Regions from separate parts of the Homo sapiens genome. Here region 1 is linked to region 2. A link means that fine-mapping ties the variant in region 2 to the expression of a gene that starts in the linked region. Tissue or cell type: whole blood. Region 2 holds a variant in brackets; the other region holds the start of a gene. All regions are shown on one strand. Distances are from middle to middle.

Region 1 (5,193 bases), 230 kb after region 2:
TGTGGATGGCTCTTGCGTTGGAAGGCCTGGAAGTGTGAATTACATACATGAGAACTCCAGGCATGACATTCTTCGGGTGGGAACTGTTGTCGCCTGCTCTATCTTGCCAGCTTCTCTGTACCAAAGTTCTTTTGGAAACTTTGAGCCTCTCTGACCTTTTGACCCTTATGTGCATGTGGGAGTCCTGGTCTGTGATCCCTTGACTTGATTCAGGGGGCCCCTTAGCTCCATCTGTGTTCCCTGGAGTCAGCACTGTGCCACCCCCCCGCCCAATTCTTTTCTGTCATGGGCAGAACTGCAGAGGCTGCATCCTTGGGGAGCTCAGAAGCTCTCCAAGGCGCTGAGTGGAGGTGCCACCTGTATCTTTTGTTTCCGCTTCTGGAGACCCTTTTGTCCCTTGCTTTTTGGGCCTGATCCCATTGTCCTTCGCAGAAGTGAGACACCTCAGCTCTTCACTGTGTTGCCAGAGAAGAGAACAGCCACTGTTGGAGGGGCCATGATGGGATCAACCCACATTTATGACATGTCCACGGTGAGTACTTGGAGGATACTGCTTTTGGAGGCTGAGAAAGGCAGCAGAAGCTAGGGCTTCTCTGACTCTTTGGAGATGACCAGGCCCTGATCTCCTTTCCAGGTTATGAGCCGGAAGGGCCCGGCTCCTGAGCTGCAAGGTGTGGAAGTGGCGCTGGCGCCTGAAGAGTTGGAGCTGGATCCTATGGCCATGACCCAGAAGTATGAGGAGCATGTGCGGGAGCAGCAGGCTCAAGTAGAGAAGGAGGACTTCAGTGACATGGTGGCTGAGCACGCTGCCAAACAGAAGGTAGGCGCTTCCAGGGGCGCTGGGCTGGGTGAGAGCCAGGGACCCTGGCCTGCCGTTTTCAGTGGCATGGTGCCCTCTAGTGGTGAGAGTGAGGGTGGCCTCTGCTTGCTGCTCTGTGCTTCCTTAGATTTGGAAGTCTTAGAAATCCTCCAGTGGGCTGCCCTCTTTAAGGACGATGAGGGGGAGGAACTCAGCCAAGTCTGAGAGGGAGCTCGAAGAGAATTCAGATTCAGCGCCTTTCCCACAGACTTCTATGTCTATGTCAGGCTGCCCACCCTTGTTTTGGGGGTCCGGGGGTGGTTCAACCTGTCTTAACCTGTGTCTCTTTCTCCCTATACAGCAAAAAAAACGGAAAGCTCAGCCCCAGGACAGCCGTGGGGGCAGCAAGAAATATAAGGAGTTCAAGTTTTAGGTCCCCTCACACTAGCCCTTTTTTTGGCCCTACGTCTGGATGCCTGGGCTTCACACAAGAACCACCTCTCCCGCAGTTCCCAAGGACTTGTCATTTCATGTTCTTATTTTAGACCTGTTTTGTAAATAAAGCTGTTTCCCAAGGAAAGAGATGAATATTTAACACTCCTGAGCCTCCCTCATCTCCTTTTAGCCCCTTCTTGCAAAAGGACTAAAATAGTCTCTTTCTACAATCACTGGGCTGCCCCAGTAACCACGAACATAAACTGGGATTAGACGGCGCATTTGACTGGTGGTGACGCCAACCCCAGGCTGAAATCTGTGTTTCACCACTGCCCTGCTTTGTAGGAAGGCTTGGGGGAAGTACCTCTAGGTCTGGTTTGACCTTACTACTTTGTCCTTGGGGAGTAAAAATAGCCAGATTAGCGCCCTAGCGCGGCAGAGGAAGTAACAGTGGGCTTGGGAAGTAGGCCAGGGCAGGCCTTCCCAACTGACCTTGTGACCAGAAGTTCAAGTCCTTACCTGTGCGACAACATAGCTCAAAAGCTAAATTGTCTTGAGTCCATATGAACCCTTGGGTTCAAGCAACACTAGTCGCTGGGGTTTGGGATTTGTATGTGGGATGGGGGGACTTACTTTCTCCAGGTTGTAATCTGGTCCTGAGCAGCCTTTCTGACAGACTAGAGCAGGCTGGATCACTGGCTCCCATGGGCATTTGCCAGCCTGTGGGGAGGGTAGTCATGCGCTGCTGTTGTACTACTGTTGGTGTTTAAGTGCACCAGTGGAGGCGCTCACTTGCCGGAGGGTTCAAGATGGTCTCGGGGTTGTGGGGGGCATGATCCAGATAGGACGTGGCAGCTGAGCTAGGCCTTAGGAGGAATGGAATTTTAGAAATTTGGTAAGCAACAAAGCACTGGCACTCTAAAGAGGCATTTGGGGGGTAGGGAAAGAAGAGGAAGGTTGGCTCCAGATGGGCCCCGGGGTAGCTTGAGAATTCACTTATGCGAAGAACCTTCTGGACTCCAGGTCCCTGAGCCCCCGCTTGCCCTCGGGGCGGGAACTTCCCGGATCACAGGCACCCGCGGTGGCAGCGGGCCCCGGGTCTCCGCCGACCTCTCTGTTTGCCGGGGCCGCAGGGCAGGGCTAGGTCGGCAGGCGGAGAGCCGGCTTCCCCGGGCAGACCCCCACCGCTGGGGGCGGGTTCCGCATTGGCTCCGAAGACCCGAGGGGCCGAGGCGCGCTCCCGCGGCGGCCCCCTCCCTGCAGGGACCGAATCCCGGAAAAGCCGGGTTTCCGCTGGCGGGGCCGCGGCCGGCCGTGGGCGGGGAGGGGAGGAGCGGGGGCAGACTGGCAGCGGATTTGAGGGCAGGACCCGTGGGCGCGCGCTGGCCACAGACCACCCCTTCTACTCCGCGGGAGCGAGGGGCGCGCGTGGCTGCACGCAGGGCGCGAGCGCGCCCGGCCCGGCCCCTCCGCGCTGGGTGGGGCCGCGCGGGCCGGGCTCCCCGCCCCCTCCCGGACACGCCCACCCGTGTCGGCCTCGCGAGCCGCAACAGGCAGCGGCGGTCGAGCGCGAGGCCCGCGCGCCCAGAGGCCCCGCGCGTGCGTGCAGCTCGCTGGCTGCTCGCGCTCGGGCAGGCGGGCTGAGGAGGCTGCCGCGCCCCCGCCGCCGCCGCCGCGGGGGAAGCCTGGGAGCCAGATCGGCGTCGCCTCGGCCTCCGTAACCCCCGCCTAGCCGGGCCATGGCGGAACGCGGAGGGGCGGGCGGTGGTCCCGGAGGCGCCGGGGGCGGCAGCGGCCAGCGGGGATCCGGGGTCGCCCAGTCCCCTCAGCAGCCGCCGCCGCAGCAGCAGCAGCAGCAGCCGCCGCAGCAGCCGACGCCCCCCAAGCTGGCCCAGGCCACCTCGTCGTCCTCGTCCACCTCGGCGGCGGCTGCCTCCTCCTCGTCCTCGTCTACCTCCACCTCCATGGCCGTGGCGGTGGCCTCGGGCTCCGCGCCTCCCGGTGGCCCGGGGCCAGGCCGCACCCCCGCCCCGGTGCAGATGAACCTGTACGCCACCTGGGAGGTGGACCGGAGCTCGTCCAGCTGCGTGCCTAGGTGAGCGCGGGAGGGTGCGGCGGGGCGCCGGGGGAGCGGGGTGGCCGCCGGGGCCCAGCCCTCCCCGCCCCAGCGCCCATGGGGTCCCCGCCCTCCATCTCCCCGACTGTCCCGCGGCCCGGCCTGGCTCCAGCCAGGCCTCCCGGGACTCCTGCCACGGGGACCCGCCCTCTCCTGGCAGCCCCACCTTCTGCCTGGGGCCGGGACCACCCTTCTGTCCTCCCCGAGGGACCTTCTGGCCTCGGCCCCGGGCTTTCTCCGATTGGGCTGACCGAATCCGGCCTTCCTGGCAGTCAGTTTCCCTGAGTAAGTCACTCTCCTGCCTCGCCGGCGCCGGGAGCTGTACATACATGGATGTGGTATAGATCTCTTGATATTATTATTTCCCAATAGACTCAGCATGTGCCAAACTCGATTGTCACCTCTTGCAGGTAAAGCTCATATAATCACCCTAGGGGCTTCTCATTAGCCTTCGGCACACATGTTCATTTGAACTTCATATTACACACGTTCTGTCCCAAGCGCTAGGCTCTTAGTTTTGGGGCCCTATTTAATGTGTCCTCAAGTGTATTTTTACCTCCCCTCCCCCACTAAAACTGGTCCCAGAATCTCCCAGCTCTGCAGGGCTGTATGAAATTACTGCCTTGTTCCTAAATTCAATCCATTGCTCTCTGTCTGTTGGAACCATCTGGGGACTTTCCTTCCATTGGCAAAATAGGCCTGAGTTTGGGAATATTTTCTGTTTTTGTATTGGCAAGGCAGTCTGTCTCCAACTCTGGGGACAGGGTGCTGTGTCTTACAGTTTGCCACTTGAATAAGACGGTGTGTGGAGCTGGTTTCACCCAGAAAGCCCAGAGAAGTGCCTGGAGGTGTTCTTTTTTGTCACCTTGTAGCTGAGTTGATTCTGTTGCCTTGAAGTCTTGGGCTGTCTCCTCACTGTTGGTTAGGCAGACGGATGTGTAAGTCAGAGTTAGAGAGGATTGCTGGGCTCCCCCCTCGACTGTCTTCCTTTCCCCACCTTTATTCTGGATAATATTGTTTTATATATATATCCCAGATAGGAATGATGAGAGTACATCTTTCTGTTTCGCTCAGCTTAAGGAACAGAGCATTATCGCTTCTGTTGAAGCTCTCAGGGTGCCCCTTCCTGACTGTCTCCCCTCTTCCTTCTACAAAGGTAAACACTATTTTGAATTGTGTTTATCATTTCCCTTGTTAGAAAAAAATTAGTTTTACTACATAATGCATCTCTATATATTTTATAGTTCTGAATGTTCTTGAAGTTTGTGTACATGGTGTCATCCTGTATGTGTTCTGTGACTTGATTGGTTTTTTTATTTTTTTTTAAATCAGCATTAGGTTTGTGAGAATCATCCATGTGGTATGGTAGCCATAGTTTAAATATTTTCATGATGGGTAGTATTCTGTTGTGTGAATGAATATACCGTAATTCTCTTGAATATGTAGGTTGTTTCCTGTTTAACACCCACAGTAATGCACACATTTCCCCCCAGGACTCCTAGTGCTCTTGTGCAGAAGTTTCTTTAGGTTGTATTCATATGGAGGGGTGGGATTGCCGCTCGCAGGGTATAGATCTGGGACTTCACTAGGCAAAAGTAGATTGTTTCCACAGGCTGCTTCCACTCTGTGTTTCCACATCACTTAACAGATTTACACATTGTTTTTTTTTTCTCTGTCCTTTCTCTAGGGAAATCAGGAGCCACATTAATTTAGTTTGCTGTGGCCAGATCCATAGCACAACACCAAGCTCAAGCGAGAGTTGAGTATGTGATGGTGTTCCTCTCTTGATCCTAAGCAGGCCTCTCTCTTTCTATACAGGCCCATCTATCGCTGAAGTATCCTA
Region 2 (5,000 bases):
CTGTCTCAAAAAATAAAAAATAAAATAAAATAAAAATAAAAAGCAAAGAAAAAGAGAATCATCAAATACCTAGGAATAAATCTCACAGAAGACATGCAAGACCTTTACACAGAAAACTACAAAACATTAAAGAAGACCTAAATAATTGGAAAGATATTACCTGTTTTTAGATTGGAAGATTAAAAATTATAAATTATAAAATTACAAAGAGATCTAGTCTTCCAAGATTGATCTATATATTTGATATAATCACAATCAAAATCCCAGTACATTTTTGAGGGGTAGAAATTAACAAGCAGAATATCTGTAGAAATGTAAAGGACCTATAATAGCCAAAATTATTTTGAAAAGAAAGAATAAAGTTGGAGGCTTTGCACTATCTGATTTCAAGTCGCACCTGTCAAGTTACAGTAATCAAGACAGTAAGATATTATCATAAGGATAAACATTTAGACCAATGGAACACAGTAGAGAGTCCAAAATTTGTCACTCTTAATAGGTCAATGGATATGTGTACACCAAAGCAATTCAATAGCAAAAGGAAAATCTTTATAACAAACAGTGCTCAAATAGCTGGCCACATGGCACAATGAATCATAACCCATACCTCACACTGCATATTCAAAATGAATTGAAAATCACCGGGCGTGGTGGATCATGCCTGTAATTCCAGCACTTTAGGAGGCCGAGGCTCAGGTGGATCAACTGAGGTCAGGAGTTTGAGACCAGACTGGCCAACATGGTGAAACACTGTCTCTACTAAAAACACAAAAAAATTAGCTGGGCCTGGTGGCACACGCCTGTAATCCCAGCTACTTGGGAGGCTGAGGCAAGAGAATGGCATGAACCCAGGAGGCAGAGGCTGCAGTGAGCCAAGATCGTGCCACTGCACTCCAGCCTGGGTGACAAAGCAAGACTCCATCTCAAGAAATTAAAATTAGGCCAGGCACGGTGGCTCATGGCTGTAATCCCAGCACTTTGGGAGAACAAGGGGGGGTGGATCGCCTGAGGTCAGGAGTTCGAGACCGCCTGGCCAACATAGTGAAACCCCGTCTCTACTAAAAATACAAAAATGAGCTGGGTGTGGTGGTGGGCGCCTGTAATCTCAGCTACTTGGGAGGCTGAGGCAGGAGAATCGCTTGAACCTGGGAGGCGGAGGTTGCAATGAGCCGAGATCCGCCATTGCACTCCAGCCTGAGCAACAAGAGCGAAACTCCATCTCAAAAAAAAAAAAAAAAAAAAAAAGAAACACTTTGGGAGGCCGAGACCGGGGGATCATGAGGTCAGGAGATCGAGACCATCCTGGCTAACATGGTGAAACCCCGTCTCTACTAAAAATACAAAAAATTAGCTGGGCGTGGTGGGCACCTGTAGTCCCAGCTACTAGGGAGGCTGAGGCAGGAGAATGGCTTGAACCCAGGAGGTGGAGCTTGCAGTGAGCCGAGATTGCGCCAGTGCACTCCAGCCTGGGCGACAGAGCAAGACTCCGTCTCAAAAAAAAAAAAAAAAGAAAAAGAAATTAAAATTAAAATGAAGAAAATGAATTGAAAATAGATCATAGCCAGGTAGGGTGGCTCATGCCTGTAATCCCAGCACTTTGGGAGGCCAAGGAGGGTAGATCACTTGAGGTCAGGAGTTTGAGACCAGCCTGGCCAAAAGAGTGAAACCCCATCTCTACTAAAAATACAGAAATTAGCCAGGCGTTGTGGCGGGCACCTGTAATTGCAGCTACTCAGGAGGCTGAGGCAGGAGAATCACGAACCTGGGAGGCGGAGGTTGCAATGAGCCAAGATCGTGCCACTGCACACCAGCCTGGGCAACAGAGCAAGACTCTGTCTCAAAAGAAAAAGAAAAAGAAAAAGAAAATGGATTATAGATACAACTGCAAGAGCTTAAACTGTAACACCTCTAGAAAAATAAATAGAATATCTTCATGACCTTGGGGTAGGCAAAGTTTTCTTTAACAGGACACAAAAAGCCTTAACCATAGACATAAAAGACTGTTATGTTGAGCTTGTAACATTTGAACCATTAAGAGTCAAAGGCAAACTA[T/C]AGACTAGGAAAAGATACTGACAAAAGGTATAATCAACAATGGGTTTGTCTCCAGCAACAGTTCCTACAAATTACTGAAAAACAGATAATCTGATCTTTCAAAGAGGTGGCAGGAAAGAATCAGAGACCTGAATAGGCACTTTACAAAAGAAGATATGCAGATGGCTGATAAATACAGAAAATGCCGCTCAACATCATTCCTCACCAGGTAATACCAGTTACACTCCCCATGCGCAATTACCATGCCTGGACTAACAGGGTGAAAGTAAAAAAGACTAACAATTCTGAGCTGTCACAGTGGTTTGTGCCCAGACTGATCTATATATTCGATGCAATCACAATCAAAATCCCAGTATGTTTTTCAGGGGTAGAAATGTAAAGGACCTATAATCACCCAAATGATTCTGAAAAAAAAGAATAAAGGTGGAGGCCTTGCACTATCTGATTTCCAGTCTCACCTGTTAGATTACAGTAATCAGTCCAGTGAGATATTATCATAAGGACAAACATAGACCAATGGAACAGAGAGTCCAAAGTTTATCATACTTAATAGGTCAATTGATACGTGTACACAAAAGCAGCTCTCAGCTACTCCAGAGGATTGCCTGAGCCCAGTTCAAGGCCAGCCTGGACAACATTAGCAGGACCCCTTTTCTTTAAAAAAAAAAAAATAATAAATAGAGAGAGAGAGAGATAAAATGACTAACGACTCTGTGGCAAAGATGTAGTACAACTGGAACTTTCATACACAGTGCTGCTGGGAGTGTACATTGGTTTAGTCACCTTAGAAAACCGTTTGGCAGTATTTACTAAAGTGTTTTAAACATACAATATGTCTTCCCTGTAACTAAGCAATTCTCATGCCCAACAGAAATGGGGACTTAGGTCAAAAGTCCTCAAAAGACGGCTGGGCGTGGTGGCTCACATCTGTAATCCTAGCACTTTGGGAGGCCGAAGCGGGCAGATCACTTGAGGTCAGGAGTTCAAGAGCAGCCTGGCCAACATGGCGAAACCCCATCTCTACTAAATTACAAAAATTAGCCAGGCGTGGTGGCGGGCACCTGTATCCCCAGCTACTCAGGAGGCTGAGGCAGGAGAATCACTTGAACCTGGGAGGCGGAGGTTGCTGTGAGCTAAGATCACGTCACTGCACTCCAGCCTGGGTGACACAGCAAGACTCTGTCTCAAAAAAAAAAAAAAAAGTCTTCTAAAGACCTGTGTAAGAATGTTCATGGAAGCCAGACATGGTGCTGCACACTTGTAATCCCAGCTACTTGGGAGGCTGAAGTGGAAGGATGGCTTGAGGCCAGGAGTTCAACCAGCCTGGGCAGCATAGCGAGAACACCCCCCTGCTTTAAAAAAAAAAAAAAAAAAAAAAGGCTGGGTGTGGTGGCTCACTCCTGTAATTCCAGCACTTTGGGAGGCCGAGGCGGGCGGATCATGAGGTCTGGAGATCGAGACCATCCTGGCTAACACAGTGAAACCCCGTCTCTACTAAAAAATACAAAATTAGCTGGGCGTGGTGGTGTATGACTGTAATCCCAGCTACTAGGGAGGCTGAGGCAGGAGAATGGCATGAACCCGGGAGGCGGAGGTTGCAGTGAGCTGAGATCGTGCCACTGCACTCCAGCCTGGGCAACAGAGCAAGACTCCATCTCAAAAAAAAAAAAAAAGTAACCGGTTGCAGTGGCTCACGCCTGTAATCCCAACATTTTGGAAGGCCAAGGTGGGCGGATCACCTGAGGTCAGGAGTTTGAGACCAACCTGGCCAACATAATGAAACCCCGTTTCTACTAAAAATGCAAAAAATTAGCCAGGCATGCTGGCCCATGCTTGTAATCCCAGCTACTCAGGAAGCTGAGGCAGGAGAATCGCTTGAACCAGGAGGCAGAGGTTGCAGTGAGCCGAGATCTTGCCATTACACTCCAGCTTGGTCAACAAGAGCAAAACTCCATCTCAAAAAAAAACCAACAAAAAACTGTTCATGGCAGCTTTATTCATAATAGCCAAAAACTTGAAATAATCCAAATGACCATCAACAGTAGATACATACATTATGATATAATCATGTAATGAAATAAGACACAGCAATGAAAATAACTGCTTCTCCACTCAACAACGTAGAGAGCTCTCTAAAGAACAGGGGCACAAAAGAATACACAATGCATAATTGCATTTCTGTGAAGTTCAAGAATAGGCAGGCCAGCATAGGCTGGGCTCAGTGGCTCACACCTGTAATCCCAGTTCTATGGGAGGCCAAGGTGGGTGGATCACCTGAGGTCAGGAGTTCAAGACCAGCCTGGCCAACATGGTGAAACCCCGTCTCTGCTAAAATACAAAAATTAGCTGGACGTGGTGGTGGGCGTCTGTAATCCCAGCTACTTGGGAGGCTGAAGCAGGAGAATCCCATAAGCCTGAGTGGTAGAGGTTGCAGTGAGTTGAGATCATGTCACTGCACTCCAGCCTGGGCGACAGAGTGAGACTTCGTCTCAAAAAAAAGAATAGGCCAGGACGGGTGCGGTGGCTCACGCCTGTAATCCCAGCACTTTGGAGGCCGAGGCGGGCGGATCACCTGAGGTCAGGAGTTCCAGACCAGCTTCAACAAGGAGAAACCCCATCTCTACTAAAAATACAAAATTAGCTGGGCGTGGTGGTGTATGACTGTAATCCCAGCTACTCGGGAGGCTGAGGCAGGAGAATTGCTTGAACCTGGTAGGCAGAGGTTGCAGTGAGCTGAGATCGTGCCATTGCACTCCAGCCTGGGCAACAAGAGTGAAACTCTGTCTCGAAAAAAAAAAAAAAGAATACGCCAGAATAATCTATGGTGATAGAAGTCAGAATGGTGGTTAGTTCTGGGGTGGGAGATAATTGATGGGTGTGGGGCAAGAAGGAGCCTTCCGGAGTGTTTAAAAAAATGTTTTTTGCCAGGCACGGTGGCTCACGCCTGT

The links. PIP is the estimated chance that this variant, and not a neighbour inherited with it, causes the effect.
Region 1: it holds the start of PACS1, and the variant in region 2 is fine-mapped to the expression of PACS1 in whole blood (TOPMed, PIP above 0.99).

Annotation. Positions count from the first base shown.
Region 1 is chr11:66,067,514-66,072,706 of GRCh38, forward strand. PACS1 (phosphofurin acidic cluster sorting protein 1) reads left to right here and starts at 2,759. Exons shown (of 24, transcript NM_018026.4): 1 at 2,759-3,329. The coding sequence starts at 2,974. SF3B2 (splicing factor 3b subunit 2) reads left to right here. Exons shown (of 22, transcript NM_006842.3): 20 at 433-532; 21 at 635-820; 22 at 1,161-1,795. The coding sequence ends at 1,232. RefSeq lists an enhancer at 612-771 and silencers at 862-911, 2,319-2,938, 2,949-2,998, 3,149-3,278, 3,289-3,438 and 1 more.
Region 2 is chr11:65,841,728-65,846,727 of GRCh38, forward strand. The region is part of intron 1 of SNX32 (sorting nexin 32); the gene reads left to right. Among named protein-coding and RNA genes, the nearest start is that of SNX32, 10 kb to the left of the region's middle. The variant T/C (reference allele first, on the strand shown) is at 2,053.